Linked DNA regions of Homo sapiens. The protein of the gene in region 1 purifies or fractionates together with the protein of each later gene. This does not show direct contact. Each region holds a gene or a part of one and is shown on either strand. Other genes may lie near its edges. The genes, in order: ADCY8, OMA1, PLAA and ANKMY2.

What was found.
Region 2: the proteins of ADCY8 (region 1) and OMA1 purify together in Homo sapiens (affinity purification with mass spectrometry; one large-scale study listed by BioGRID and IntAct). This does not show direct contact.
Region 3: the proteins of ADCY8 (region 1) and PLAA purify together in Homo sapiens (affinity purification with mass spectrometry; one large-scale study listed by BioGRID and IntAct). This does not show direct contact.
Region 4: the proteins of ADCY8 (region 1) and ANKMY2 purify together in Homo sapiens (affinity purification with mass spectrometry; one large-scale study listed by BioGRID and IntAct). This does not show direct contact.

The regions. Positions count from the first base shown.
Region 1 is NC_000008.11:130,899,733-130,907,916, forward strand, and holds part of ADCY8 (adenylate cyclase type 8), read right to left. Parts: intron 7,248-8,184; exon of another isoform or gene 7,183-7,247; intron 4,311-7,182; coding exon 4,040-4,310; intron 1-4,039.
Region 2 is NC_000001.11:58,535,098-58,543,281, forward strand, and holds part of OMA1 (metalloendopeptidase OMA1, mitochondrial precursor), read right to left. Parts: intron 4,214-8,184; 5' UTR 4,198-4,213; coding exon 3,698-4,197; intron 1,645-3,697; coding exon 1,416-1,644; intron 1-1,415. UniProt on the Homo sapiens protein: Metalloprotease that is part of the quality control system in the inner membrane of mitochondria. Activated in response to various mitochondrial stress, leading to the proteolytic cleavage of target proteins, such as OPA1, UQCC3 and DELE1.
Region 3 is NC_000009.12:26,924,195-26,932,378, forward strand, and holds part of PLAA (phospholipase A-2-activating protein), read right to left. Parts: intron 4,215-8,184; coding exon 4,114-4,214; intron 4,027-4,113; coding exon 3,906-4,026; intron 2,367-3,905; coding exon 2,199-2,366; intron 1,767-2,198; coding exon 1,631-1,766; intron 1-1,630. UniProt on the Homo sapiens protein: Plays a role in protein ubiquitination, sorting and degradation through its association with VCP. Involved in ubiquitin-mediated membrane proteins trafficking to late endosomes in an ESCRT-dependent manner, and hence plays a role in synaptic vesicle recycling.
Region 4 is NC_000007.14:16,636,264-16,644,447, forward strand, and holds part of ANKMY2 (ankyrin repeat and MYND domain-containing protein 2), read right to left. Parts: intron 193-8,184; coding exon 128-192; intron 1-127. UniProt on the Homo sapiens protein: May be involved in the trafficking of signaling proteins to the cilia.

The DNA.
Region 1 (8,184 bases):
AGCCCAGATATAGATTTTACTCAGAGCATGCAGCAGAAAAGGAAAATATAACCTTTATGATAAGGATCCTGTTCTTATCTTCCTTTCATTTGCAATGTTGTCTTTCAACTGAGAGATTCAATGTCCATGTTGATAACTCATTTAATAATCTAGCCTTGAACTTCCTGGATATTCTCCCCCATATGTGAAATTTTTCACTTTTGATCTACTTCAATCATCTCCTTCTACTTTTTAAATCTTAAGTTCCAATAGTCCACCTGTGATCATAAACTTCTTGCCTTCTAGTTTCCTTACTTTCATTTCACCTGGAAACTCAAGGCATGGGGAGTCTCACTGGGATCTGAGTCAGGGTTCAGGAAACCAAGGCATCAAATTAAGAGGCAGAACATCTGCACTTGTCAAGGGCCAGGGATATAAAAGGGCATGGGTGTTCAGGATGTCCAAGAGCAAAACTTGGATACCAGAATGGGGTCAAACCAACAATTTTAACCCAAATGGATACAGATACAGGGGCAGACAAGACACAGCATCAAAACCAAGGGAGTATGGTCAGGCAGACAGAAACTGGAAGACTCACATAAGGGGCCACAGATAATTATTAGTGATTTTCATTGCTCCTCCAAGCCATTTACAAACTACTGAAATGGGTAGAGGGAAGGGAACAGGGGTGGAACTGGAGTTCTTGGAAACCCAGAGCCACCTCTTACCAATTATGATGACCTGGCTTCTGACTCTACCATCTCACCAGATCTGCCTCTTGCCAATGATGTCCTTCAATCCAGTTCCAATAGGCAGCTATCAGTCTTCATCTTCCTGGGCCTCTTGTCTCCATTTGACTTTGCTGATGGCCCCTTCCTTCTTAAAATGCCATACTCTAGGCTTCTGTGACACCACATTCCCTAGTTCTCTTCTGACAACTTTGACTGTTTCTTCTCTGTCTCTGCCAAGGAATACGAATCTTTCACCTTCCAACTTGTGCTCCTCAAGGTCTGCTTGTGTCTTCTTGTTCCTTAATTTTACAGATTCTCAACAGTGATCTCTTTCACTGCCATGTCTTCTACTAACACCAAAATTCTCGTGACTATGAATACCAAATTCACATCCCTTGCACAGTTCTTTTATGCCTGAGTTTCAGAAATGTGTGATCACTCTCCCTGGATTTTTCCCAGACACTTCAAGCTCCACATGTCCCAAAGAGAATTCCTAGTCTTCCTCACACAATCTCCTATTCCAGTACTGCTTATTTTAGTTGGAAGTTCTATCATCGACGCAGTTCCAAGCAAAAAATCTAGAATTCAAACTTGACTGATTCCTCTCCCTCACTACCCATATCTATCATTTAATTCACTTATTCAACAAACTTTAATCAAGCCCTGTGATTTGCCAGGTATTGTTCTAATTGTGGGCTAAATTGTGGTAAGTGAAACGGATATAATTTCTATCTTCATTAAGAATATAAACCACTGGCTGACTTTGTCTCTAAAGTGATTTTTTTTCCCCATCCCTCCTCTTTTTTTTTTTTTTTTTTTTTACTAGCAGTAGTTGGCTTGTAATAGATGCTCAATTAATCCTTATTGAATGAATGAATACATGAGGATGTAACTATCTGAACATCTGCTATCTACATAGCACAGAATATGACACAGCAATTTGATGCCATTAAACATATTTCTAAGCACATATTATGAATGAATAGAAGCCAAAACATCTGGCCAATTTAGCTGGAATACCCCCAGTGAAGCATTAGCATGCTTTATCTGTGTTATGCAAACACTCAGATGGTCGGGGCTTCCGTGGAATTGACTGGGTGTTTTGGCAAAGCATAGGCTCAGCCAGACCAGTCTTGATCTCTTCCAGGGACAAATTATGTCTCTGAATTGCACATATGGCTCACTGACTTCTAGAGTTAGGCATAAGTACAAACATTGAATACTTGTGACGGTTTTAATTGGCTCAGTAATTTCCAAAATATTATTGGTGGCACGCGGTTATTCATGAATATCAGCACACATTCACTTGCTCTTCAGTCTGAAGGCATCAAAATGAATTCAGATTTTTCGTGCTAAAGATGGCACAGATGGGTTACATCCAGGCAAAACTTGGGCATTAAAAAAATACACGGTATGGTTAAACAACACTAACAATCTCTAGCTAATAATGACATCTCTTATAATAGGTATTTGGTGACATCAGGAAATATCTTTAGGAAATCAGCAAATAAATATTTCAAGCATTCCTATACAGTTTAACCACATCAATCAACTATAGAATAAAACCAAGAACCTCCACCTCCCTCTTCTTGGCTCTCAGTTATTAGTAGCAAGTTCATGTACAATACAGATTAGAACATTAAGGAATTATCTTAATTCCTACAATCAGCATAACTGGAGAGAGATTTTTCAAAAATAAAGACAAAACAAAAACTAAAACTGAGAGAGAGAACTTTATGCTGAGGTATTCAGGATGAGGCATGCATTTCTTTCTCTTTAAATAATCAGCATACAGACCCAAGCTAACAATAGGCAAAAGCAGCAGAGAGGGCACTGTCAGCTGGTCATGCACCCACTCCAGGAAGTATATAACACCATTATTTTATAAAACAGCAAACTGTACCATGCACACCAACTCAGAGATGGAAAGAACCTAGGCATTGCAATCAGTTATGACTTTTGTGTGCATAATAATTTTTGGGGGAAATTAAACACTCACAAAAGAGCTGTCGAAGACCTAAGGGTCAACTCTTGCAAGGCATGCAGCCTAGGTTCAACCTGCAGCTTTTCCCAGTGGAATCTGGCCCATGCATTTTCTCATAGTTTTTCCCCCACAGATCCAGAAAGAAACCAAAGACAGCCTAGTCTCAGAGTGCCCCATCAAACTTTCAAATGCAGAAAAAAGAGGGGAGACTTTCAGCATTTTAACCTTTCCATTTAAAATTTTTTTAGGCAGACAGATTTTTCTTATCTATAAGTTAATGAGAAATGTTGAGGTCTATGGAATTTAAAAATTAACCCTTATATGTCTTCATAAAACTCCAGACACTATTGGCTGGGTACTTCATGGTACTCTCAGCTTCTGCTTGGTCGAGGATCTTATCAGAAACTGTCAGATAACTGTCAGATAAGTGTTATATATTGGCTATTTTTATTTCTTTCTCTAAAAATGTATAGTACAGTCACATCATTGAACTTATGTGAATTCAACTAAATGTGCTGTGTCTAAGAGGTTAAAGGGAAAATCCATATTAGAGCAGGTAATTTTGCCATGGCTCCAAGCAAGCATTCTGGGAGAACAGAATCTCTGTGTCCACCTTGGTTCTCGACCTGGCTCAGCCTCAGTTCTCTAAGTGCCTCTTGGAGTCTGAGCATCTCATTGGGTTTACTGTGATTTCAATATTTGAATAAATAATTTAAAAAGAATTTTGGTTATTGGTGATCTACTCCTTATGTACTGACTTAGTAGCCCTGTCCTTCATAGAAGATGCAAATCCATGCTATATAAAAATAGAATCATGTGGGTGGCTTTGAAATTGCATGCTCCTCCTGAACTCCCTAACTCTAGGCATCACTTGGTGCTCCTTTCCTATTTCCAAATCTGCAGTGCCCCCCTGATTTTGAATCTCAGAGGGTGACACAGAACTGATGATGGCCAGCTACCGAAAAAGGGGCATTCCCATGTACTTGATCCTCCCCTTTAGTTTAATAACAGAGGGTTTATTTTTTCCAACATGAGTGGTTTTTTTTTTTTTTTGGTAAAATTACAATTCAGCTTCACATAATATTTATTTTTAGCTAGGTTACAAAAAAAAAAAAAGAGAGAGAGAGAGGGTGTTAGGAACCCTCTGGCATTTCTGGCATTTCCTGAAATTGCATACGAGGTTAATTCTGTCCTGAGGAGACAGAGAGATAGTTTGATCATTTGCAATTATGGTGTTCATTGGAGAAAAGGTTAAAGATGAATCAGTTTTCTCTGAGGTGTCTGGATTGGAGATGCACACGAGCATGCATTCATGGCCAAGCAGAAGGAGGAAGAGAGGACTTACATTCTGTTTCCCCACGATATTATCAAAGGGCAGTTCAGGGCTCCAGGATCCTTCAGTGAATGTGGCCCCACTGTTTCTCCGGTCTGAGGAGCTCACTGACTCCTTGACGATATCTTCAGGCAAGGACAGCAGACTGTCCTCAGGCTGCTTAATTAAGTAAGTTTCGATATTATGCTTCCTCAGGAATTCATTCCTCTCTTTACCATGGCCCTCTTCCACGTTATAGTCACCGTTGAGACAGTCCAGCGTGGCTTTGGAAATGTGAATCCTCCTGTGTGTAGAAGGCATAGGTCATTACACACTCCTGATGTTGCCTGCAAAGGCTATATTTTTTTGACCTGTACAAAACCAACACCAGGGTTACACAAGGGTATTATTAGGACATGTCCTCAGGGACAATACTTGTCTTCCTAAAAAGTAGAAAGAATAAAAGAAAATAGAAGCATAAATTCATGAGCACAGTATCACGGACATCGTCCCAAGAGACACTGCTGCCTCTGATAAAATACAGCCCTTCTGAGCCACACCTAAGCACATCTTTTGGCTTTTCTTATGATTGTCAGCCTGATCCCAGCAAACTTTACAAAACAGTGATTTTTTTTTTCAGTCGTGTTGATTATATTGGAAAAACAAGTGCTGCAAATGTTTCTGAACCCCAGTGGCAATCATTATCCAAATCACCATGCAAAAACAGTTCTTTCTTCGTCTTGGAACCTGTCCTATCATTTCAATCTTCATGTATTTGTAACTTGTTTCTCCAACTTGTCTATATTCTTCTCAAGGGTGATTCTGATAAGTCCATAGGGCTGCACTGAGGGTCCTTTGGGAAAACCACTGTAGGGTACAATTTCCCCTATAACATGTATATTATAAGGAGCAAAGAACAAAGCTGTGGACATGTGCAGGCTGGCAGCTGGCTGGGCTCACTCACAAGTGAAGTGACTCATGGCTGCACAATTGTCAGCCACTGTGGCTCATGACTCAGGCTTCTTTTTTAGCAAAATAACATATGACATCAGGGCCTTGAGGATCAAACTTGATTCATGGAAATTTCACATGGTAAATTCTTCTGGGGAAGAGTTTTTCTGTCCTCGTAACTGTCTAACTCAATCATACTACTTATTGCGTTATAGTGTGGTCTGGGTAGACTAGCAAGGTAAGGTGGTTACAAACATGGACTTCATTGCTAGATCTCCTAGATTCAAACCGTAGCTCTGCCACTTGCCAGCTGAGAGATCTTGGGCAAATTACTTAGCCTTTCTATCAGTCCATTTTCTTACCCATAATATGGGAAACATAATAACACCTATCTCTGACTATTATTGTGATTATTCTACGAGTTGATTTGTGTAAGGTAGTCAAAACAGTGCATGGTACAACATATACACTATAAAAGCAAATATGTAAGTTATTAAGAGTATTCTAAAAAATGCCATTGTCATCATATTACTGTTGTGTATTCCATGCCTTCTCAAGGCTTGCAGAAGACTATTGTCAGGCCTTCTGAATAAGGCCTCCAAGCTTTCATTCTCTGGCTCTGTCACTTCAAAGCTCATTTTCTGACACTCCTCTAATATAGCTCTCCTATGCTCTCTCCAGCTATTCAAGTAATTGGCAATTCTCCAGATTCAACGTACTATTTGGTGCTTACTAACAATTTCCTACTGTCCAATTCTGCTCAAAAGTCATCTTCCTAAGTTTACTTTAGTGTTCATTTGAATGAAAGAATGCTTAATATTTTGATTGGCTTTTGGAATGCTAAGAACAATATATCCAAGTAAACAGAAAAGTTTTTAAAAAAAATTTAGAGTGGCTTTTAAAAATGCACTGTAGTGGCTCATGCTGAGGAAGCCGAGACTGGTGAATTGCTGGAGCTCAGGAGTTTGAGACCAGCCTGGGCAACATGACAAAACACCATCTCTACAAAAAAATACAAAAGTTAGCTGGGCGTGGTGGTGCATGCCTGTAGTCCCAGCTACTTGAGAGGCTGAGGTGGGAAGATCGCTTGAGCCCAGACAGTTGAAGCTATAGTGAGCCGAGATCATGCCACTGCACTTCATTCTGGAGGACAAAGTGAGACCCTGTCTTAGAAAAAATAAATAAATTCATTAATTAAATAAAATGCAGTTTACTTTTAGTATTAGCTCTGCTACTCCCTCTCATCCTTCTAACCCATTCTGCTAAATCCCTCCTTACAGAAAGAATAGTTCATTGCAAAGAACATGTGAAAAACCAGAAACTACAAACAAATCATTTCTGATACTTCATGTTCTCCACATCTTCCACATAAATATCTTGATTGATTTCAAGTGCAAGATGTTAAAAATAAATGTGTGAAAGATGTTTTCACTCTCTTGAGAAATGTGCTGAATAAATACAAAATATTCCCAAGATGCATTTTGTTAATACATATGAACTCAATAATATTGACCTGGGAGAATAACAGATCGTTTGACCTTCCATGAAATGGAAGTCCCCATCCGCTTTCTCAGATGAATCTGAGTTAAGACTGGAAGCTTACCTTTTCTCCTAGACAAAATGAACCTGGTAGGAGGGTTTTCTAAAGTACCATGGTTGATTTTCTTTTAAGATAATTAAGTTACATATCAACCCCTTTTAGCATTTCTCTGGATTCTATTTTTATTATTCTGCTGTCAGTATGCAAGGGGACAAATACTTCCATGTATTAAATCAATATTATGTTTTCACTAGTGAAAGAGATCCTTGCCTTCACTGATTCTTCTGCTGAAGTGCTAATCAATATGCACTTAAATGTTTTGGTAGAAACTGGGTTTTAGATGTTTCTTTTCATCCTTGTTACTAACTTGAGCTTTGGGGTAAGACATTTGCAGATGAGATTCTGAAGATTGCATTTCTTTCTAAGGAAATGTGTCAGTTTTCAGGCATTTCTTTCTAAGGAAATGAGTCAAGTAAACTTGGCATTTTCTGATAAATTTTAATGCTAGGATATAATAAAAGTAGTCATGATACTAAATTAAGACCTAACAATTGTGTAACTCTTGTTTTGCATAAATGTTATCTAGTAGCCAAAGGTGTTACTGTGTGCCCCATGGATTATCTCATATAATTTCCGTTCTTTCAACAACCTTAGGTATTAGACATTTCTTTGTCTCCTTTTGCAGATGCTGAAACTGGCCCAGAAGTAACAAGTACATATTTGGCCCCAAATCATATTAGTGGTTAGTGGCAGTGCTGGATTGAGACAAGAACTTTTACTTTCAGCGTCTCTCTACCACCCTGGAACTGTATTATATGGTAACTACTACCAGCACAACCACAATAAATATTTACTGAGTACAGGACAAAGGACTTTATATGCATTATTTCATTTAACACAAGTTCAAAAATGGTGATCTTCATGGTGTGGTACTAAGGCCAGCAGTTCCTACCAGGAACTGGTAGAAAGCATCATCTTGAGTTCCATGCCAGACATACTGAACCAGAAACTCGGCAGTGGGGCCCAGCAAGCTATGGTTTAATAAACTCTCGGGTAATTCCAAGGCTGAGGTTTGAGAACCGTTCTTCTAGAAACCCAAGGCTCAGTGGTGTTAAAGAAGAAGACAATAAAAAAGTGGAAAAATATATAACAATATCAAACCATGGTGAGTCTGGGGTCCCGTTTTGACATTCCTGCATTTTGCACATTGACAACATGCCATGGCTAAGCAGAGATGGATACTGAATAGAAGACTAGACTACGTGCTTTATAAGCACTATCATATTTGAAACTACATTTTTAAGGCGGATAATGTTTTCAGTCCAAAATTACAGTGAAGAAACTGGGAAGGGCATGAAGTACTTGCCACAATCTTCCAGACTTCATAACTGGTAAGTAGTAAACCCACGGTTCAGACTCATGACTCATGATATGAAAAATAAGGGTGTGAAAGATGATTTAAACTCAGTCACTTTTCTGTTTCTTTTTACAAATTATTTTATTCGTTTCTTTCCTTTTTCAACTTTTATTTTAGAATCAGGTGGTATATGTGCAGCTTTGTTACAAAGCATATTGTATGATGCTGAGGTTCGGGGTAAGAAGGAACCCTCACACAGGTAGTGAACATACTACCCAACAGGTAGTTTCTCGTCCCTTGTCCCACTCTCTCCCTTCTCCCTCTAGCAGG
Region 2 (8,184 bases), on another chromosome or scaffold:
TTTACTCACAGATTGAAAGGAAATTACTGAATTCTCAGAACTAATGAGCATTATCACTGTCTCTAAAAGATGCTGATTAAGACTAGCCACCACAGAAGATACTTTTTCTGAAGTTATATTCATGAGAGCTCTTTCAAGTGTACTGAGAAAATTAAAAATGTTCTGAAATATTACTTTAACTTTCATAAAGTGTATGCTTTTTTTCACTTAAGAATCAACAAGCGGCTGGGCATGGTGGCTCATGCCTGTAATCCCAGCACTTTAGGAGGTGGGCAGATCACGAGGTCAGGAGATCAAGACCATCCTGGCCAACACGGATGAAACCCCATCTCTACTAAAAATACAAAAATTGGCCAGGCGTGGTGGCGCACGCCTGTAGTCCCAGCTACTCGGGAGGCTGAGGCAGGAGAATAATTTGAACCTGTAAGGTGGAGGTTGCAGTGAGCCAAGATGGCACCACTGCAGTACAGCCTGGGTGACAGAGCAAGTCTCTGTCTCAAAAAAAAAAAAAAAAAAAAGATTCAGCCATGCCAAAGCTGTCAAGTGAGGCTACTGGACATGAATTCGAAAAATATTAATTGAGCCACAGGGCACATAACATGTGTATGTGCTATGAACTGGAGAGAAAATGACCTCTGTCCCTAAGAAACTCACTAGGGTACAAAATGTTTAACTACCTGAGTTACTATACTTTCCAAAGAGGTAAGACTTCTAAATTATAACTTAAATTTGGATTCAAAAAATATAATAAATTGCTAAAACTGATGTTTGGGAAAAAAATCTTATATTACTTGATTTTCAAGGTATAAGAATTCTGACTATAAATCTATTTATTCAATAAATATATACTAAGCTCTACTCTTACATACTGTGTTAGTATTTAAAACCATAAACAAAACAGGTAAGATCCCTGCCCCCATGAAGCTTAGTCTAACAAGAAAGACAATCAAAAAAATAATTATGCAAATAATTATGTTACTCTCATGAGTGCTTTGAAGGAAAAGTACAGTATGCAGAGAAAAAAAGCCTAGGAGACCTAACCCCAGTAAAGCCAAGCAATGGGCGCAACTACAAATGAGCTGGTTCATAATTCAGTCGGTATGAAGGATACCTCCTAGGGCCTGATCCAGTCACCCTGCCTAACCCAGTCTGGATAATCAAGGAAGGTTTTCCTGAGAAAAGTGACATTTAAGGTGAAATGTGCTGAGCAGGAGTTAGCTGGGTGAATGCTAGGAAAAGCAATGTAGGCAGTAGGAATACTAAGTGTGAAAGGTCTGAGGCCTTCGGGAAAAAAAAATGCTAATTTCATATCAAAGACTAAAATTAAAAAACAACATATCTTTCACATTTAAGATACTTTCCTACTTTGAGTGTTATATTAAGCAGTCTAATTAAAAACAACTCTTACTACTTACTGCTTCATATTCCAGTTCCGATAAAAGTCTGAACTGTTCTTTCCCCAATAATAGTAGCTTGCTCCTTCCTGTGATTGGACTTACTTCCAGGTGAGTAAAATAAAACACCACAAAGAGCAATCCAAAACTACTCAAACCAAGGAATAGCTTCCATTTATTCTTCCTTATATTTTCTTTAACTACTTCCTTCTTGTTAGGAGGAAGTGCCTGCCACCATTTCCTTATGCCCCTAAAGCAAAAAGAAAAATTCAAAGTTCTGAAAATCATTCCAGCACATATCACTAAAGCTCAAATGCATACACTAGAATTTTACGTCCTCAAATACCTGAATTTGTATGATGTATTTCGCTGAATACATCGCTTTTCCAATTAATAAAATTCTTAGCTAAATGATGAAAAAATAATCAATGATGTAAAGTTACAGTTAAAAAATTCTAATACTCATCGAAATTTTCTTCTTCAGCTATTTTAAGGATAAACACTAAATGAGATGCTAGTTTACTATAACTACCACTGGTTAATATTTATTACTATCTAGTACATGCAAAATTCTCTCTCTCTCTCTCTCTCTCTGTATATATATATATACCATCTCATTTAATCTTCATAATAACCCTGTTACAGAAGATAAAATTGTTAGGTAACTTGTCCATGGCCACTGAGGTAATAAAAGGAAAACCAAGCAATGAAGGCAATGACATTCCAGAGTCTGACCACTTAGCCACTTAATAGGGATAAATGCCTAAATAATTATGTAAGAGGTTACAGTACAATAAATCTATACCTGGAACCACTACTTTTCCCACTGCTCCTCAGACCTCCAACACAATTTGCCAGTGATTCCACAAGGTACAAGGGAAACTGCCTCAGCATTCATTTTGGAAATAAATAGTGCTCAGTAGCAGAAACTCCACTATCCTCTTTACAACGTGAAAAAGGAGAGATAACAAGATCCTAGGTATTCATAAGAAAGTGGGAGATTTTATAGATAACATCTGAGAAGGTCCAATTTCTACCAGGCAACAATACTCTCTGCCACTTAGCAGTGTTCAGAAACATTTTGACAACAAGCAATGTTTTCAATACTGGGACAAAAATTTTCCTTATGAGTTGATCTGTAAAATCACAACAAAAATTTACCATATATACATCATTCTCTTGACAAAAATTTATTTTACAAATTCTTAAAGTTCTCTTTGTGAAGTGACACACCCCAATGCCTTTACACAAAGTGTGTCCATTTAAAGGGACATAAATCAAACTATCGAGTATACTTATTTCCTATTTAAAACTTTACATGACATTATCCTTTATTTAAAATGTATGAAAGACATATTCTAAATGAAAAATTTTAGGTGATCAACAATAGTAACAAAAACAAGAAAGTTACAAATAAATAATTTAAAAGGATGAGGACATAGCAGAAATCAGAAAGAGCATCCGAAGAACCTGGGATGAGCGTATTACTTCAACCAATAGTCAATACAGCTGTATCGCTTTTGGGTGCCAACACCAAATCATGAAAAACACAATAAGTTACAAATAGAAGTTCTTGGTTTTTGATCAAAAGCAAACTGGTTTGGTTCATGTGGTAGTAAGAAGGCTAGAAGGGACTTCACAGTCATCAAACACAAGAAAGCTTTATGAAGAAACAGTGATTAGCTTTCTTCCATCTTCATAAAACAAACAAGAGAAAAAGGGTTAAAGCACTACAAGCTGTGAAAATATTATTATAAAGGATCACCAAGGAAAAAAACAAAGATTTGTTGGGAACAGAATAGAAAGAAAAGAAGCATTAATGACTTAAGAGTTAACTAGGAGTGAGCCCACCCTTATATAAGCAAAGTTCCTCAATTTTATGATTTGCTGCCTTAAATTCCACAAATTAAAAAGAAATGTTTGTAAGTACTCTTCTTATACATAAGTGATAACCAGCACTTCTGATCCATATATCCTAAGATTTTGTAGTCATAAATATAAGATTTTTTTAATGCCTATACAAAATGTAAGAATAACTTTTTAAAGAGATATTTCTATACCATAAATTAGTATGCAGGAAATTGTTTCAAGATTATTAAATCATACAGAACAAAATTGGGCAGGACCTACTGTTTAGAAACTTCACTTTGAGCTAAATGGGGGGAGACAGGGGATCTGGCAAGGTTTCTTTAAAAGTACAGTTTTATAAATAAAAAAATTAATTTCTAAAAGTTAATACGTTAGCACAAAATATTAATGCAAAAAGTTAATATAAAAGTTTTTATTCTAAAAAAGCATTTTACCTGCCTACAATGATTGCAAATAACTTCTGTACTGGTTTAAGAATCATCAACAAGAGAGGAACCGGAGCAGCTTGAAACCGTGGAGAAGTATGGAAATTCCTAATAGCTCTTATGGAAGCAGGGCTTAGAGGATGCAATACTGACAGACTAGGGACTGCTGTAACTTCTTTTATTAGCAGCTGTCTTGAAAAAGCATCATTCCATACAGTACATTTGCTGGTAATCCTCCAAATTTCCTTACTTTTGGTACTTGAGAGGCCTCCTGTTCTTTTGTTGTTAAAAGTACTATAAAAATGAAAGTTTCCAGGCAGAAAACTCCACCTGTCACACTGATTTACTCCCAGTCCCTGATACTTATTTACTATATGGTTAACTTGTACTTGATGACAGCCCCGTGAGGTGGATGCTAATGTGTTACATTTTCTCCAGTTAGACAGTGAATTAAATCGGAAGAAAACATGGTTTCTAGCAGCAGACTGCAATCCACAGATGAAGCTCATTTTTTCACTTGACTACCTGAAACAAAAAAAAAACTATAAATATCTGTGGAAAATATTTACTTACCAAACTGGGACTATAACACTTATTAAATAGGCGTGTCAGTTGTTCTTCTAACACATCTCAGGCTAAATTACCTTGGGTTTCAACTCATCACCCCTAGAGCAACGCCTTTCAGCAAGATAAACCAGAGTATATATACCACGATATTTACTATGCAACGTTTACTTTAGAAGCTTGAATTTTTTTCATTTCATTTTTAATTTTTAGTTAGGGAAGAGCCATTTGTATTTTAATGGCAAATGATTTGAGCAATAAAGTGGATTAGATAAAAACAACAGTAAAACTTTATCAGTTTGCAATAACTGGAAGGAAGCATGTGATACAGAATAGTAAAATCTAACTTATAAAATGCACTGGACATTACGCAATGAAGAACAGTGATCCCTAACAGATGGGAAACAGAGCCCTACAACTGTCCTAGCTTATTGCCTGGAGAGTGCTTCCAGGCCACAATGCAGACAGGGTAAACCTAGGTGGAGCCCAGTGGTTCCCCTAAATCGAAGAGATAAAGCTGGGAGGTCAAGTAAACCAAGGTTGCTAGAGCTCACAGGACAGAGGACAAGAGAAGACAAGAGCTGCACAGAGAAATAACTCTAGAGTTCTGCAGAGAATCCCCCTCCCATATTCAGCTGAGTCCTGTCTGGGCATATGTGTAAGAAAATTCCCTGGAGCTGGGAAAGGGCCACCTGAAAAGATTGCAGGGAATAATATACAGGGCTCACACAGGGCATGGTATACTGCCTATCCCCTCCCCACCATTCAAAGTGGAAAACCTTATCATTCGTGGGTAGAGTACTCAGAAGGGTTTTGCCTCAACATTAGAGAAAGATTAGTCTGAGACCGAAAGCTGCTCTGGCCCCACCTAACAAATATTAAAAGCAACCCCCAAAAAGATTAAATGCTTCCAAGCAACAACTGCATCCCAGGAAAAAAAAAAAATCTAAACAGGTATTAGGACACAAAACTATTTAACACTTAACAAGGTGCAATTTATAATTAAAAATCACCAAGCATGCAAGCAGCAAGATATGTGATCCACAATTAGAAGAAATATCAATCAGTGGAAACTAACTCCTAAATAAACAAATAACAGCATTAGTAGATAAGGATATTAGTTATTGTAACTATACTGCACATGTTTAAGAAGCTAAAGGAAAATATGAGCATGTTATGTAGAGATATGTAATATATTTCTTTAAAAGACCTAAACTTTTAGACAAGAAAACTGTAAGAACTAAGATGAAAAACATACTAGATGAGACTAACAGCAGATTAACATTGTAGAAATAAAGATTTGTGACTTTGAAGACGTATCAATAGAAACCATCTAAAATGAAATACAGAGAAAAAATACAATAATAAAAAAAGGCACAGGGCATCAATGAGGTATGCAATAACTTCAAGTGGCCTAATATTCATCTAACTGAAGTCCCCAAAAAGCGGGGAGGAGGTGTAGACAGAAAAAAAAAACACTTGAAATAATGGCCAAAAGTTTTCCAAACTTGATGAAAATTATAAAACCACAAATTCAAAAAGTTTAACAAATCCTACACAAAAGAAACACAAAGGAAAAAAACTACAAGGCACATAACTTCTTAAAATCAATGAAAGATAAAATCTTAAACTTGACATCTTAGGTGAACTGTATAAATTCATTGAAAAACACAAAAAAAGCTGGGCATGGTGGCTCACGCCTGTAATCCCAGCACTTTGGGAGGCCGAGGCAGGTGGATCATTTGAGGTCAGGCATTCGAGGCGTGAAACCCCGTCTCTACTAAAAATACAAAAATTAGGCAGGTGTGGTGGCACTTGCCTGTAATCCCAGCTACTCAGGAGGCTGAGGCAGGAGAATCGCTTGAACCCGGGAGGCGGAGGTTGCAGTGAGCCGAGATGACGCCACTGCATTCCAGCCTGGGCAACAGAGTGAGACTCTGTCTCAAAAAAAAAAAAAAAAAAAAAAAAAAAAAAAAAAAAAAAACAGGAAAAACACAAGAAAGTACATACTCTGATTACATCTCTATAATATAAACTGCAAAAAATGCAAACTAATCCATAGTGACAGAGAGATGAGTGACTGCTTGAGGAGTTGTAGGAAAAAAGCAGCAGGGGAAGGGATTACAAAGAGTGGTGCTTGCCTGTAAACCCAGCTACTTGGGAGGCTGAGGCAGGAGAATCACTTGAACCTGGGAGGCAAGAGACTGCAGTGAGCCAAAATTGTGCCACTACACTCCGGCGTGGGCAACAGAATGAGAACCTGTCAAAAAAAAAAAAAAAAAAAAAAAAAAACCAAAAACAAAAAACAAAAAAACCCAGATTGAGGGAATCTAAATATGAATTGAATTTCAAGTTGTTTTAGGTAATTATTATTTTCTTAGGTGATAATATTGTGGTTATCTGACTATTTTATTCCTGAGATACTTGCTGAAGGATCTGTTCATGATAAATAAAACTCACTTTCAAATTGTACAGCAAAGGTACACACACAAAGGACATAAAGTCAATAAACAAAATATCAGCAATCATTGTATCTCAGTGATAGTTACATATGTGTTCCTTAAATTTTTCTGCATGTTTCAAAATCTTCATATAAAAGTTGGGGAAAAAAATATGTAAACTTCAACCTAAGCTAATACGATATTATCTAGAAAGATGCTCCAGGACTACCAGTTTTAATAGTATTATCTATATATCAAACCATTTGAAAATTACTCAAATTTATTTTTTATGTAATTCATACATCCTGCCCTTGCACTGTTAATGTATAATGTTAATAAAGGGCATGCTAAGTAAAACATTAACTTTGAGTTAACCCTTTTTGAAATACAACCAATTTTAAATTAGTAAAGTCCAGGCTGATATATAATAGTTTGACATTATTAACAAGATACTTTGTTTTTACTTTTTTGAACCAAGCTGAAAAATTGTTAAATAATTTAAGCCTAGAAGTCATTTCACAATTCATACTGGAGTAGCTAGTAAGGTTTTCATTGGCTAGGGGCCATGAGAGTTATGCAGCACAGAATATAGTCCTGCTCTCATGGAGGTTATAATCTAGTTGGGGAGACAAAACTGAACCTAAGTAAGACTATTAGGGGATAATAAAATTCAGTTATTAAATACTACATACTGTATGCATTCTTAAAAAGACATCCATGAGTAGCTGAAGAGTTCAGGAAGGCAGCAATTATTTTTCATGCCATTTAGGCAGATGCAGAAAGACAAAAAAAAATGGAAAGAACTGTTTTAAATGGGAAAGTGTTTTAAGGTTTAAATGTAAAGTCTTCTTCTAGAAGTCAAACTGCAAAAACAACCCAAGCCCACTTTCTTTCCTTGACCTCAAATCTGATGATTTACTGTAGTAGATAAGCTTCAGACACTTGCCCAAGCACAAGTCCTTTTCCAAATGTGCATCTTACAGCCTCATTTTAGGGGACAGGCTTAGACGGCCACATTCATCCCTAGCAACCCCTACCATTAGCTACAGAGCTAGGAGTAGGTATTTGATACTGAAAAGATTTTACATAAAACAGTATTCCGCACAGGAATATAAGGGCATGTGTAAGTTGGGTCTACAGCGGGTGCTATGGCTAAACAAAGCAATATGAAAGCAAGAACTACAAACAAAAAGCTTTTTTAAAAAAAAAAAAGTGGATCCACAGAAAAGACAATGGACTATTAAGTGTAGACAGAAGATAAGTGAGAGACCACAAAGCCAGAGTGAATATGAGAGAATAAGACCTCCCTGATTCCCATGAAACCATTGTACTTCCTACACTTAATTGAGCTTCATGAGCTTTTACTTTATCCCCAAAATAATGCGCTTTCTTCAATGAGTTTCTGTATTCTGCAAATAAATGATCTCTAAGACGTTTACATGGTATAAAACAGTTATACATTTGTTTTTGTAAATTGACAGCATTTTAATA
Region 3 (8,184 bases), on another chromosome or scaffold:
ATCACAGCTCACTGCAACCTCAAATTCCCGGGCCCAAGCAATCCTCCCACCTCAGTCTCCTGAGCAGCTGGGACTACAAATGCATGCCACCATGCCCAGCTAATTAAATATTTTTTTTGTATGGAGACAGGGTCTCGGTAGCTCACCCAGGATAGTCTCGAACTCCTGAGCTCAAGCGATCCTCCCACCTGGACCTACCAAAGTGCTGGGATTACAAGTGTGAGCCACAGCAGCTGGCCTTCTTATTGCTTTCAATGCTAGAGTAGCATTATAGAGTAGTCTATGATCCTTCGTCCATCTCCTCCAACCCTTTATTTCCTCTTATTTGCCTTTTTTTCTATCATTTTCTATTCAAAATGTGATTGATGCCAAAAGTCACTAATAACATCTTTCAAACCAAATCCAAATGCTTTTCAAACTTTCCATTCTTTGACTCCTCAAACACTTTTGACACTGATGACAATCTCCCTCCAAAATCTCTCCTTTTCTGTCTCCCAGAAATTTCAACATTTGAATTCCTTTGTTCTGTTTAACCTACTAACTTCTTTTTCTCTACTAATGGTATATCATAAAACTTAGTTCTTAGTCTTCTGTTCCTCCCCTGTATTTCTTCCCTCAGAGAATGGTGTTCTATGCTTTGCTTTTGGAAGCTTTGCGAAATCTTTATCTTAGCCTCAGTTCTTATACTAAGCTCCAGTTCAAATGACCATGATCCACTGGCATGAGTGTGGCTCACCACCACTGCAGACCTCAGGAAGTCTAAGGCCACGGTCATCACCTTCTGTACCCAACCAATTCTCCCACTTCTCCATTTTTATTAATGAAGATTTCCAATCACTAACAGTTTGAAGCTTTATCCTTTTCTTTCATACTTTTTCTGATTGTTTTCCTTCTGGATTATCTCATTTACTTATTTCCTACCCATTAGCATTGTGGGGCCAATGTCTTATAACTTCACACTCCTTCTGTACTTGCTTTCTAATTTACTTTCCTGTCCATTGTCACCAGCAGTTAAATCCAATCTACATATTTAGTAATTCATAAGTTCTGCTTCAATCCTATTTCTTGCTCAAGAACTACAACCCTTCAACCCCAGGCAATGAATCTAAAAAATGCCTGGCATGAAAGCACTAAAGGTTCTCCACAGTTAAGCCCCATTGTACCTATTATCTCAGCATTAGTACTCCACCATTTTCCTTCACTTCCTATGCATGCTGCATTCATTCTCATGAAGGAAACTTATACTCTTAGCTTTGACAAAAATTTGCGTATCTTTTCTCACTCATAATCTTTCAAAATCCAGTTCAAATTTCTTCTTCTACAGAAAGTTTTCCCACACCAATCTCTACCTTCTCTAACTTCTTTTGTAGTCAATATCTTGACTGCACAATTGCAGTACAATACTGGTATATCATGCATCATTGACTGCACAATTGCAGTACAATACTGGTATATCATGCATCCCTTAGTATGAAAGCTATAATATCTACTACTGTTTTGTTTAGTAATTGAAGTGTCCATATAGTCTCCTCAAGTCACGTGAAATTCCTTATGGCTTATCTCTGTACACTCTAGTTCCTACTGAAGGCCTAGACATATAACATTTAATGATTGACTAGAATATAAATACCTCGCACCAACCACAATGTCACCATTGTCGAGCACACAGCAGCACCATATAGACTGAGCTGGAAGTCGGATAGTTTGAGCACATTCCCCATGTTTCCAGATTCTCAGAGATCTGTCCTCTGCTGTTGTCACAAAGTCTAAAATTAATGAATATAGGAAGTATTAGTTTGAATAAAATTAAGTACATTTATACATACCATCTTTCTAGATACACTGACTTTTTGAAACCCAGAGACTTTCAAAATTACAGTTTTAAATTTCATATGTTTGTCACTTACAACATATACAACTTCAAAATCACATTTTTTATTCATGTCACATCTTACAAAGTGTTTCTTCAGATACCCAAGAACTTTTTACAGCACAACATAAATCTGAATTAATATAAAGATGGCCATACAATTTTCTTCTTTGTAAACAGGAGAAAGATACTTAATGAAATAAATTTACTAAATTATTCAAGTCATAGATAGTAAATTAAGTAATCAGCTCTCCTCCCTCCATCTCACAAATGGGATGGAATAATGCTCAATACAAAACATTAAATAAATAGCATAAAATAATCTTACCTCTACAATTTGGAAAAACGGATATGCTATAAATATAATTTGTATGTCCATAATATACTTCAAGACACTCGCCAGTGATTTGCCACCTTCTAATACTAGCATCATTTGCACAGGAAAGAAATTCTGTTTCACTCAAAATTGCCAAACCTCTTACACAGTCTTCATGCCCTGCATTAAAAAACAATAATGCAAATCAATAAAACTGATAATTTGGCTGATGGCTCTATACATTTTACTAACATTATAAAACATATCAGTGAGTAGTAAAAATTAATTTTCAAGTTAGAGAAATCTTTTTTTTTGTTGAAAGCCTGATAACCAAAATTTGTATTTAAGGTTTAGCAATATTTTTTTATCACCAGTCTTCAGAAGTTATTTTACATTCATCCTACCTTCTCCAAAAACCTCCAGAAATAGTATTTTGACCCCAATAATTTGTTTTCACCTGAAAATTCATTTTTAATTTTTCTTCCCCAACAAGAGTAATTTATAAAATATATAATATTCAAATATAAAAGAAATATATAACAAAGAGTAGCCCATAAATTTAAGAACAAAACATTCTCTGAAGCTTGTGAAGTCAGATTTCCTATGTTCAGTATCTGTTGACTTAAGAGTAGCTATCACAGATTAATAATGACTTGATACATATATATAGACTATATACTGAAGCAGAAACAGAAGGATGTTTAGTCATCATCCACTTTCCATCAAAAGATACTTTTTTTGTTTTTCTTTTTTTTTTTGAGATGGAGTCTCACTTTGTGGCCCAAGCTGGAGTGCACTGGCACTACCTCTGCTCACTGCAACCTGTGCCTCCAGGGTTCAAGAGATTCTTGTGCCTCAGCCTCCCGAATAGCTGGGATTACAGGTGTGCATCACCACTCCTGGCGAATTTTTTTGTATTTCTAATAGAGACAGGGTTTCACCATGTTGGCCAGGCTGATCTCGAACTCATGGCCCCAAGTGATCCACCCACCTCAGCCTCCCGAAAGGCTGGGATTACAGTTGTGAGTCACTGCACCCAGCCAAAAGATACTTTTATCTGTACAAAGGGACTTCTTGCATATTATCTAGGGTAGTTACCAACTTTTAAGGAAAAAATTCAAAAAGGAAAAACAACACCAATTAAAATTAACAGTAAATACTTAAGTACCCTACAAATAAATCAATGATATTACTATTAGATAGCAGATGCATCAGTATTGGCATTATTTAATAGCTGGGGTTTAAAAAGAATACTCACCATAAACCACAACATAAACAAAGCTTGAAATTCGTTATAAACAATGTGCTTCAATATAAAGACACTAATAATGATTTCTTCCATATATGAAGATAACACTGCTGACTGACCATCAGTAAGGCTTATGTTTAGAAGTTTCAGGCTAAAAGTATTAAAATGACAACCAAAAATATAACTATATACCAAAAATTACATACATATATGCAGAAGCACATATGCATATTATATATAGCTTATCAGACAGCTATTTATCAGTCTACATTTGGCTGTTTTATGAGAGGTTTCATTATCTTTTTAAATGTATTAGATATTAACTCATCAGAAAAATTACATTAACTCAAATTAATAGCTTAAATATACTAATGTTTTTCAAATATTTTCATGCTTGTAAACTTCTGAGAAAAAAAATCTGAGCAAATAAAAAGCAATGATATTATAAAACTTGTCTACCCTGATCTTACCTGAAAAAGTCCTCTCACATCTTCCAGCCTTCCACAGTTTAACAGTCTTGTCTGCTGATCCAGTCAACATTAAGCCCTGTTCAGGTAAGATCTTTACCGCCCACACTGCAGCTGTATGACCCTGTGAGTAAAATGAGTATCAATTTAAGTTGCCACAGAATCATTCAACTTAATTATTCTTTAGAATATTTACACAGAACTACTGTACCTGCAAGGTCATCATGCACTTGTCATTCAGCCAGACTTTAGCAGTGGTGTCCCATGAACCACTAAGTAATGTCCCAAATTTTCCAGATGATAGACTACAAACTAAGGAAAAAACATCATTGGATAACACATTTTCATACAGAAAAATGCTCAACATTGAAAGTTACTAAAGCATTCCAATTTTAAAAACACTCTTTGAAGTGGCAGTATCTTAGCTAACTAAGGCTCAATTCAGCAGAGACGCATAAGAGTACAGTGGTCAAGAGCAGACTCTGGTGCCAGACTGCCTGGGCGCAAGGCCTAGCTGTGCCACTTACAAGCCACGTAACTGCAGAAATATTACTCAAAATCAGATTCCTTGTCTGTGAAACGAGGGAGCGGAACTTAAGTGAGCTACACAATCCTTCCAGCTTTAACAAATCATAATAGGGAGATAATGTAAATGATTTTGAAACACTGTTTATATAAATATTTAAGGCTGCTTTCATGACAGTGACCATAAAACCTGCAGCCAAGCTCAATGTCCAAAAGTAATGAAGTGGTTAATTAAATGTCTTACTTTCTTGATGTGAAATTATGCAGGCTAAAAATTACAAATATGAAAAATTATGCCAGGCACAGTGGCTCACACCTGTAATCCCTGCACTTTGGGAGGCCAAGGCAGGCGGATTGCTTGAGCTCAGGAGTTAGAGACCGGCCTGGGCAATGTGGAGAGACCTCATCTCTACTAAAAATACAAAAAAATAGCTGGGTGTGGCGGTATGCGCCTGTGTTCCCAGCTACTTGGAAGGCTGAGGTGGGAGGATTGCTTGAGCCCAGGGCACAGAGGTTGCAGTGAGCTGTGATCATATACCACTGCACTTCACGCCTGGGTGACACAGCAAGATTCTGTCTTTAAAAAAAAAGAAAGAAAAGAAAAATTAGCCAGGTGGAGTGGCTCATGCCTGTAATCCTAGCATTTTGAACTGAGCTCAGGAGTTTGAGACCAGCCTGGGGCAATATAGTGAGACTCCAGCTCTAAAACAAAAATTTTAAATTAGTCAGACATGGTGTCACGCGCCTGTCGTCCCAGTAAGAGAATTGCTTGAGCATGGGAGGCCAAGGCTGCAGTGAGCTGTGAGAGCAGCACTGCATTCTGGTATGACCAAGAAAGTGAGACCCTCTCTCAAAAGATAAAAGAAAAAAAAAGAAAAATTATCTTAGGAAAGAAGAGTATCATTGGCGGTCGAAGCACAGCCATAAAGAACCTTGGATTGGGAAACCTTTTTCCTAGACCAGAAGGAAGCAATCACAAAAGTCTCTCTACCCTGAGCTGAGGATCCTTGAGACAGCTACTTATTTGGATTTCAGAATGGCTCTAGATCAAAAACTGTTGTCTTGCACTGCTTCCTCTTCTGAATGAGTGTTTGCTCTGATTATCCTATTCCTTTTCCATAATTGTATATTGGGTATGGTTGACAGCTTACTTATAAGCATCACCTCTCTGATGTTTAGAATACTTAGCATCACTCAGAGGAGACTTTTGGATTGTTTGATGAAGCTGAATCGTTGATGACCAGAAAGCATGCTGTGGTAACTCTCCCTTTTTGGACACATGGGAGAATGGTACTTTCCTCCTCCATTTGAAGTTAGGCATAGCCATGATACTTGCATTAGTCACCAGACAAAACGGTAGCTGACACTTTCAGTCACACACATGTTTTTGGTGTTTTTTTAAAATTGATTTTTTTAATTCTCTACTACTGTGACATTCAAGGAAGGCACATGCTTTTAAAAGCCAGTGCCTTATTATTATTATTATTTTTTTTTTTTTTTTGAGACAGAGTCTCGCTCTGTCGCCCAGGCTGGAGTGCAGCTGTGTGATCTCGGCTCACCGCAAGCTCTGCCTCCCGGGTTCACGCCATTCTCCTGCCTCAGCCTCCCGAGTGGCTGGGACCACAGGCGCCCGCCACCACGCCCAGCTAATTTTTTTGTATTTTAGTAGAGATGGGGTTTCACCGTGTTAGCTAGGATGGTCTCGATCTCCTGACCTTATGATCCGCCCGCCTTGGCCTCCCAAGTGCTGGGATTACAGGCATGAGCCACTTCGCCCAGCCAACCAGTGCCTTATTAACCATGTTGCCCTTTGACTGCTCCAACAACTACTGAAGCATGTGTGGAGAGAAAGCCCCATTAGCCTGGGTCCCTGAGAAAATCTGATGAACAGAGTCCCTTTATTAATCCATGTTGAACATGTAGGGTTAATGAGAAATACTCATATGTTACATCACTGAGATTTTTTTTTTTTTTTTTGAGATGGGAGTTTTGCTCTTGTTGCCCAGGCTGGAGTGCAATGGTGCAATCTTGGCTCACTGCAACCTCCGCTTCCGAGGCACAAGTGATTCTCCTGCCTCAACCTCCCACGTAGCTTGGATTACATGCATGCGCCACCATGCCCGGCTAATTTTTTTGTATTTAGTAGAGACAGGGTTTCACCATGTCAGTCAGGCTGGTCGTGAACTCCTGACTTCAAGTGATCCACCCACCTCGGCCTCCCAAAGTGCTGGGATTACAGGCATGCACCACCATGCCCAGTCTGAGATCTTAATAGTTGTAACTTGGGTGCTCTTTACATTCTTCCACAAATCAGTATGATATAATTGGATAAAATACCATTTCCCAGTAAAAGAAAAAAAAAAACAGGACTTCTTGGCAAAAGTGCTGGTTTGAGGTCTAGAGCAAGAAGTGTACAAACTGAACCTAGAACATTCTGTAATAAAGCAAGGAAGACTACTGAAGGTCTTATAAAAAGGTGACAGGAGCCAATTTAAAGAGGTTTCCAATGGCCAGATATGGAACAATTTGAGAACTGAAAAAAAAAAAAAAAATTCAGGAAACAACTCCTTCTGCAAACCAGTAAATAAATTGGGAGAAGGGTCAAGGAAAGCATTTATTCTGTCTTTTCTGTATAGAAGTCCCACATGGTAACCAGTTGATGTGGAAAGATCTATACAGAAAAGTCTTGGCGATCAAATGCAGAAATAATATTAGAATTACAGTACAATCATTTTGTAAACCTTAATAAAATATTGAATCTAGGCAATGATTATCAGTAGCTGCTAAAAATTACCATTATGTGAAAGGCTGATGGGAACTTTATAATGAAAGAAAGATACAACACTTGAACCCACTGATCAATCTTAATATCACAAAAAGATATTGTGTGCTTCCTGATGTGATACAATAGAAAATACAGAATACCACCTATACTGTTGCCAAAAACTTGAATCTGAACCTGATAAAGCTACTAGATCTATTTAACAGCTTACAAGAAATATAGGTGACTGAAGAACACATTAAAGGAAACAAGGCTTTAACCAGTAAAACTGAGATTGTGGGAAATTCTACAGCTAAAATAATCTGGTTTTAAGCAACAAGAAAAAAAGAAAGAAACTGACAGATTGAAAGATGTAGGGCTGGGCACGGTGGCTCATGCCTGTAATCCCACCACTTTGGAAGGCCGAGGCAGGCAGATCACCAGAGTTTAGGAGTTATAGACCAGCCTGGACAACATGGATCACCAGAGGTCAGGAGTTTGAGACCAGCCTGGACAACATGGTGAAACCCCATCTCTACTAAAACTACAAAAAACTTAGCTGGGCGTGGTGGTGGGCACCTGTAATCCCAGCTACTTGGGAGGCAGAGGCAGGAGAATCACTTGAATCCAGGAGGCAGAGGTTACAGTGAGCTGAAGATTGCACCACTGCACTCCAGGCTGGGCAAAAGAGTGAGACTCCATCTCCAAAACAAACAAACAAAACAAACAAACAAACAAAACAGATGTGGACCTTATTTGGGTCAGAATTCAAATGAACTGTAAAAAAAGATTTATGAGACAACTGGGTAAATTTGAACATTCACTGGATGTTTTTGTTTTGTTTTGTTTTGTTTTAGGTGTGATAACAATATTGTGGTTATTCTTTTGAGGACGTGAGTGTCCTTATCTTTTAGAAGGGTCAACAAACTAATGCTGGTGAGCCACCTGTATTTGTATACCTAACAAACTAAGAATGTTTTTTACGTATTGAAGTAA
Region 4 (8,184 bases), on another chromosome or scaffold:
CTGCATTCCAGCCTGGGCGAAAGAGCAACACTCCATCTCAAAAAAAAAAAAAAAAAAAAAAAAAAAAAGGATATATTATCTCTTCTTATAGGAAGTAAAATCCTTTATTAAACTTCTAAAATCTTACCTCGTCCAAACAGTTGACACGAACATTCTTGCTGGATAATAATGTTCCAGCTTCTTGGACAGTACCTAAAAAAAAAAAAAAGATGAAAAGTAAGGTTATTCGTCACTAGAATAAGAGAAAAATCTAACATCAAGGAAATAAACCTTAAGGAGTTATCTGTAAGAGTACATCTAGTCAGTGTAGGTTGCTAAGAAATGAAACATCCAATCACATACTATTTATTTTACAAAGTAATTGTCCAGTAGAATAGATTTACAGAAACTAAAAATAGCTCCATCTTGTTTTTATTTTCACTGACCTTAAAGTATATTACATTGGCCACATTTTCCTTTTGGCGGTAATACAATAACCACAAAGCATAAGACTTAATACTGAAAAAAAATCTTAAAGGGTATCTAATCCAAATCACCATCTGAAGCTTAAATTCCAGTCAATGTAATACTTGGAATTCAAAATGCAGTCAGTATTTATATAATTTGTCAGCACCACATCTTGTGAATTGATGACATATTTATAATAGAGTGCTTGGTTTGGAAATACTTAGGTGAAACACATCTTCAATGCCTAGTACTACATTACAGTGCTCTATGATCAGTACTCACCACCCTGAAAGTCAACTAATGTAAACCTTAAGGTCACTCCTCTGTAAATTTGGAAAGAAGCTATAATTGGGCCAAAGTTGTCAGGTTTTTCCAGTCTTCTATAAGGCATAATGACAGAAGCATACTTGCAGGAGAGAATGTTGCTATTATCATTAGTACAAGCCAGCCACACATTTTGCCAAGAAATTTCTGGTTTTACTGGGAAGAGAAGAATGAAATTGAATGTGCTGAGGGAGAAAGGCTAAGATAAGCCTCTCCTATAAAAGAACATAAAAGAATAGGTAAGTCTCCCAATCAGGTTATTTCCTCTCTTTAAATTTAGACTTGTAGTGCAAGACTGTGCTAAACTCTGCTAGCCTTCTAGAGTTAAAGGTGAAATGCAAAATAAAGATTAGCATGCTTTTTTCTCTCTGACCCACTTCTTAAGCAAGTCACCTGAGTTCCCCTCACCAACAGAGAAAAAACAGAAACATCTCCTAGATAGAGAAGTAGCTCTGTTGGGAAAATGTCAAGTGAATGATCTACACGTCCCTGGAGTATGATAGCAGCTATTTTTTTTATAAATAATGCATTTTTCTGACCCTGTATTCCATCTGAAAGCAGTTAGTATCACTGGCTGAATCGCTATGCAAGGGCAAAGCTCTTGTGTGTGTGAGCATGCGAGCCAGTTCTACATGAAACCTTATTCGTATCTGTGTCTTCTCATCAGAGACTTTCTCAAAAATCTTTATAGAAGAATAAAACCAGAACAAAAACCCCGCACCCCAGTTTCTCTTGAGGAAGATGCTTCATCCAAATCCCATTCTCTACTGAGAACCAAAGTTATTTTCTTTTTCTATCTGCCCAAGAGATGTTTTTGCAAGAAAGGGAGAATACTATAGTGATTGTAAGCATGTCAAAACCTGCTACATGGGAAGAGTAGAATGGGGATTAAGATCATAAACATTTGGCTCTCATTAGAGAACAGGCTGATAATTCTCTAAGGTGTTTGCCAAATAGCCAACAATCTAAGTTAACATATTCTGTAAGGGAACAATATATTTTAAAGATGATGCATGTATAATGGAAAACAAACTGTTCTCTCCTGCTTAACTCTCACTCAATAGTCTCAATCCTTCACTTCTGACACCAGATATATGGGGTTTCCCCCATAAACACCAAGCAATTCTCCATTGGACACCAATGGGGTATCCTATAATTTAACTCATTTCTAACATTGTTTATCTAAAGTTAGTCAGATCTTACAGGTCAAGGGCTCAGTCCACAAGACCGTCCCCACTTCAGATGCCAATCATAAGCCCCTGTACTTCTGACTGGCTATAAATCAGGGTTCCCATGATCCCCTCCTCAGGTTCCATAATTTGCTAGGACAGCTCACAGAACTCAGGGAAACACTACTTACATTTACCCATCAATTACAAATAATATTACAAAGGACAAAGATGAACAGCCAGATGGAAGAGGGGCAAAGAGCAAGGTATGTGGCACTTGGCACAGAGATTCCATGCTCTTTCCAGGCACTCATTCTTCCAAGAACTTCCACGAGTTCAGCAATCTGGAAGCTCTCTGCAACCTGTAGTTCAGTAATATTTATGCAAGCTTGATTACATAGGTGTGACCTATTATTAAGTCAGTCTTCAGCTCCTCTCCCTTTCCTGAAGATGCGGGGAGGGGTGGAGTTGAAAAATTCAACCTTCTAATCATGGCTTGGACTTTCTCATGACCAGCCCCCATCCTGAAGCTATCCAACAGTCGCCTCATTAGAACAAAAGACATTTCTAACGCCCAGGAAATTCCAAGGGATTAGAAACTCTGTGTCAGGTACCAGGGTCAAAGACCAAATATTAGAACAATAGATGCACCTAGCACCCCATTGTTCAGGAGATTATAAGGGTTTTAGGAGCTCTGTGTTAGGAGCCAGTGGCAGAGACCAAATAGATATTTCTTATTATATCCTACATGTACACGTACCCACAATCACACTAAGGTTAGCCTTTTGAAATGCAGGGGCTGGAATGAGAAAAATAATCTGAAACAGATTGGGCTTCTAGAGGGTAAAAATAGATTTGGAACATGGATGAGCAAAACACTCCAAGAGGAAAAACTGTGATGATTTCCAATTCGGTGTTCACAATGTAATGACATTAGTCGGAAATTATAGAAGGTCCAGAATAGCATGGAAATGTGAAACACATGGCTCACACAGAAGGATTTTTACTTTATGTCATTCCTACTGTCCATAGTAGACTTAAATAATATTTTACAAGTAAGTGTAAAAGATTAATTGCTTTATTCTGGGAAATAAATATGTTAAATCTGATTTAACAAACTGCTGGGGGTGGAAGATAGAGTACTATAAGAAGGGATGTGCAAGGAGCCAACATTTACCTTCATTGGAGATAAGAAACAACAGACCTAAACTAATTAAAGTAATAATTAGTGATTTATTTCCCTTTAGAGAATTCCTCCAACTGCTCAAACCAAAGAAGAAAATACAGCATAACCTGCCTCATTAGGGTGGAATTGATCACTTTATCTGGATGAACAAGCATTTTAGGAGAGAAAAGATTATGTACATAATATTTTCCCAGCATGGACAACATAGTGAGACCCCATCTCTACAAAAAATTTTCTAAAAAATTAGCAAGGTGTGGTGGCATGGACCTGTAGTCCCAGCTACTCAGGAGGCTGAGGTGGGAGGATTGCTTGAGCCCAGGAAGTTGAGGCTGCAGTGAGCTATGATCATGCCACTGTAATCCAGCCTAGGCAATAAAGTGAGACCCTGTCTCAAAAGAGAATGATATTCTTAGTGTTACTGCTCTCTCTTCTACTACATTATAGCTTTTTCAGGAATACTATAAAGTGGAACAAGACCTGCAAAACTTGGCCAGGCATGGTGGCTCACACCTGTAATCACAGCACTTTGGGAGGCCAAGGCGGATGGATCACCTGAGGTCAGGAGTTTGAGACCAGCCTGGCCAACATGGTGAAACCCCATCTCTACTAAAAAAAAAAATACAAAAATTAGCCAGGTGTAGTGGTGCGTGCTCGTAGTCCTAGCTACTCAGGAGGTTGAGACAGGAGAATTGCTTGAACCCAGGAGGAGGAGGTTGCAGTGAGTCAAGATCGCGCCACTGCACTCCAGCTTGGGCGACAAGAGCGAGACTCTGTCTCAAAAAAATAAGTAAATAAATAAATAAAAGTAAATAAAAAGACCTGTAAAACTCTCAGTTTCCTTATCTATGAAATAAGGATAACAATATCCATCCCACAGTTATCTGAGGAGTGTCCTAATGTGGAGCACATATAAGCCTTTATTAGATCTTCTTTTTATTTTGTATTCAGAGCAGCACAATATAATTCATTGTAACATTTCTAATATCTAGATCGGGAACACGGGTCTCTACCAAAGACAAGAAGATGCAGCCAAAACAAACAGAACAGGAGAAACAAACATTCTGTTTTCAGCAATTCATCACACAACCATGAGATTCAAACACGTATAGATTTCAATCGTTATTCATTATTATTGTTTTAATTTTTTATAGATACAGGGCCTTCCTCCATCGCCCAAGCTGGAGTGCAGTGGCATGATCATGGCTCACTGCAGCCTTGAATTCCTGGGTTCAAGCAATCCTCCTGCCTCAGACTCTTGAGGTGCTAGGACTACAGGTGCACGCCACCGCACCCAGCTAATTTTTACATTTTTTGTAACAACGGGGTCTCACTATATTGAGACCCAGGCTGGTGGCAAACTCCTGGGTCCAAGTGATCCTCTTGGATCCTCCCAAAGTGCAGAGGGGTCACTCTACAGGCATGAGCCACTATGTCCAGCTGGATTGCAATCATTATTTATTGGAAGCCACGAAAACGGATATTTTAAGGAATATATAATCAAGTTAAGGATTTAGAAATCTATTTGGCTTTGTTAGTTGTTATAGTGTTTACGTATAAGTAAAATCATGTAAAAATGTTTAAAGTGCCTTAATTTTAAAACAAGAACATATGGATATAGATTTTGATATAATCATAGATATAAAGCTATAAATATATTTTAAAAGTGAAACCCCATCTCTACTAAAAAGACAAAAATTAGCCGGGCGCGGTGGTGCACGCCTGTAATCCCAGCTACTCAGTAGGCTGAGGCAGGAGAATTGCTTGAACTTGGGAGGCAGAGGTTGCAGTGAGCCGAGAGCGCACCATTGCATTCCAGCCTGGGTGACAGGGTGAGACCCTGTCTCACACACAGACACACACACACACACACATAGTGGAGACTTCTAATTATAACATGCATTTTGAAATCGTGAATTTGTGCGATGTTTCTAAAAGGTCTCCTACTCATATCTATTTTTAGACTTTGTAAAAAAATGATCTTAAATTAGTATTACAGAGCACTGTATAAAATTGGGAGTATCTAAAAGAGCTGTTGCTGTGAAAATGAAGACAATGAAGCCCATATAGGTTGCATAACCTGTCCAGCCATCCAACTAATGGTAACCATATATTTTAATTTTTTCTTTGAACTCTGTACTATAATTGGTTATAAGCAGACTTGAATGTTTCTCAACCATAAAGACACCAGAAGTATTATTAACGACACAGGACCTTAGAACAGGATCTTATTTCAATAGTCCCAAATTGGAAACAACAATTGGGCATCAATGGGAATGGATGCACAAATAGTAGTATATCCTTCCACTGGAAATAAAAGAAGAAAATAAGCTACATACTATTGGTACACATAATAAATATGAACCCCAAAATCATAATGTTGAATGAAAGAAGCCAGCCCCCCCTCAAAAAAAGGATACTTATTGTATGATTCTACTAATATAAAATTCTAGAATAGAGAAATCTAATCAACAGAGGCAGAGATCTGTTAGTGGTTGCCTGCAGATGGGGGTGAAGTTAGTGACAGATCACAAAGAGGCATAAGGACTTTTTAGGGGGTGATGAAGATGTTCATTATGTTGATCTTACTGATGGTTTCACAGATGTATGTTTAAATCAAAACTGATTAAAAAGTGTGTACTACCTGTAATATGTGCAATTTATTGTATCTCAATAGTTGGTAAGAAAAAGCCTTATTATCCAAACTTGTTTCATAGCTCCTTTACACAGATATGAAAAAAAAAAAGGAAGTATAATACTTTCTTGTTAGCAACAGTAAGCCCAGGAATTTCAGGTACTAAATAAGAGAAGTAATGTGAAAATTATCTAGCTCATAGCCTTAAAAAAGGTTTAATTTATTTCATAATAGTGCTTGCTCTGAGATTAATGAAAAAGGTATCAAAGCTTAGAAGAATGGGTAACTCTACAAGTCATATAAGCCAGTTAAACACAGTTCAGTGATTTCAATTTCCTCTTACATACTGTTAAATGAATGCTGTCATTAACTATGATTTAAATGGGTATGTTGGAAACAGATTTTCATTTTCATCTGGAACTTCTTGGCATTCTAATAAATAAAAAGCCCCACTTAGAGTCTGTCTTTCTGGAGAGCAGTGGCTGGCAGATGGGAATCACTTAAATATTTGCCGAGTTTATTTCAGATTGACCAAGATGCCAGGCTAGACTTTGCTGAAAAGTTGTTAGTTCAAAGTACTAGAACTTATTGTCTCATCTAGAGTTTTTCAAAGTTGAAAAACGTATGAAAGAAAAAAAAAAAAACTCACTTCACCCACTTTAAAAAAAATGCCTCTTTTTGGCACAAATATAAACTTTGCTTATGGCCTTTCTTCAACTATAAAATAAAAATTTACTTTAAATTTAATGCACACAGAACTACAAAATCAGTAACATTTAAAACTGAGTTAACTTGACAGATGTTGTTTTGCTAGAACTAAATGACCTCTCAAAGTGAATATTGTATGGACTGCTATGGTACTGTTTCATGTTTTGTTTAGTTTGTTTTTAGGTACAGCCTGTTTATTACCTATGGGCCCTGTGATACCTCTGCTCTGCCACTTTCTGCCACTTACCTGTTTGACACTAAGTTTCCTAACTTCCCAGTTCCTCAGTTGCCTTGCCTATAAAGTGAAGATTACTATATTTATCACAAACACAAGCAGTATTTCGAATGCTTTAACTATACTAACTACTTTCATCCCCATAACAACGTTGTGAGGTGGGTATTATTATTATTCCTATTTTTCACACAGAGGACTTGAGGCTCAGGAAAAGTCACTTGCCCAAAGGCCACATCACCAGTAAATGAGTTAGAATTTCAAACCAGACCTGCATGGTTAACCACTATCCCATGCTGTCTCTCATACTGTCATAGCTTAAAATTAATTCCTAGCTCATCCAAATTAAATGCATTAATATATGTAAAGTACTTAAAATTATGTGTGGCTTGCAATAACAGTCAATAAACGTTGGCTATGGTTGTTTTTCTCATATCTCCCATTACTTTTCTTTATGAGTGCAAGTGATGTCCCACAGACCTTCATTTGACAAGAATGCATCACATACTAGGTCCACATCAGTTCTTTTCTCATTGGCATGGTCCAATGAAAGCGATGAAAGCATCAGTGCACTCATGCAACTTGATGCACCGTGTGAGCCCAGAAATATCACAGCACTAACCAGAATAAATGCACATTAATTCAGGTTTATATAATCTTCAAAATAAATACTGATGGACACCTGAGAATGTATCCAAGGAATCCCTTCTCCCCTCTCAAAGACTCAATTTATAAAACTGCTCACTATTTTTCACTTTTAAGAGATCACATGATGGGCCAGGCCCAGTGGCTCATGCCTGTAATCCCAGCACTTAGGGAGGCCGAGGCAGGAGGATCACTTGAGCCCAGGAGTTCGAGAGCAGCCTGGGCAACATAGGGAGACCCCCACCACCCCATCTCTACAAAAAAAAAAAAAAAATCTTTCTAAAGTAGCCGGGCATGGTGGCTCGCACCTGTAGTCCCAGCCACTAGGGAGGTGGAGGCTGCAGAGAGCTGCAACTCCAGCCTGGGTGAAGAGTGAGATCCTGTCTCAAACAAACGAGAGAGAGAGAGAAAGAGACAGCGAGAGCGAGAGAGAGAGAGGACATGTACTAGCTCTGTCCTGCCTAAAAGAATTTTTGTCCCTGGTGGATTGTGAATTGATCCTTTGTCTCCTTTTTGCCCAGCACAGTACCTGGCACACAGCTAGAACTTGCATGTTTGCTTAATTGAATCCCAGAGCCATCAAAGGCAGGGAGAAATTACCTAGAGACAGGAAGAACTGAAAGACTGAAATGCCAAATAGGTCAGCAAGAACCATGCAGTACAACAATCTAAACTCTAACCCAAATCCCCAAATTCCAGGCAAAGAACACATCATTGATAGATATAGCTGTGACTGACTTAGAATAGTTGAGATCAGATCGGGTGGGCTCAGCTCATCAGCACCTGTTGAGTTCAAACCGGAATTTTTTCTCCTTCGCATGTGGAGTTTCCTTGTCGCTAT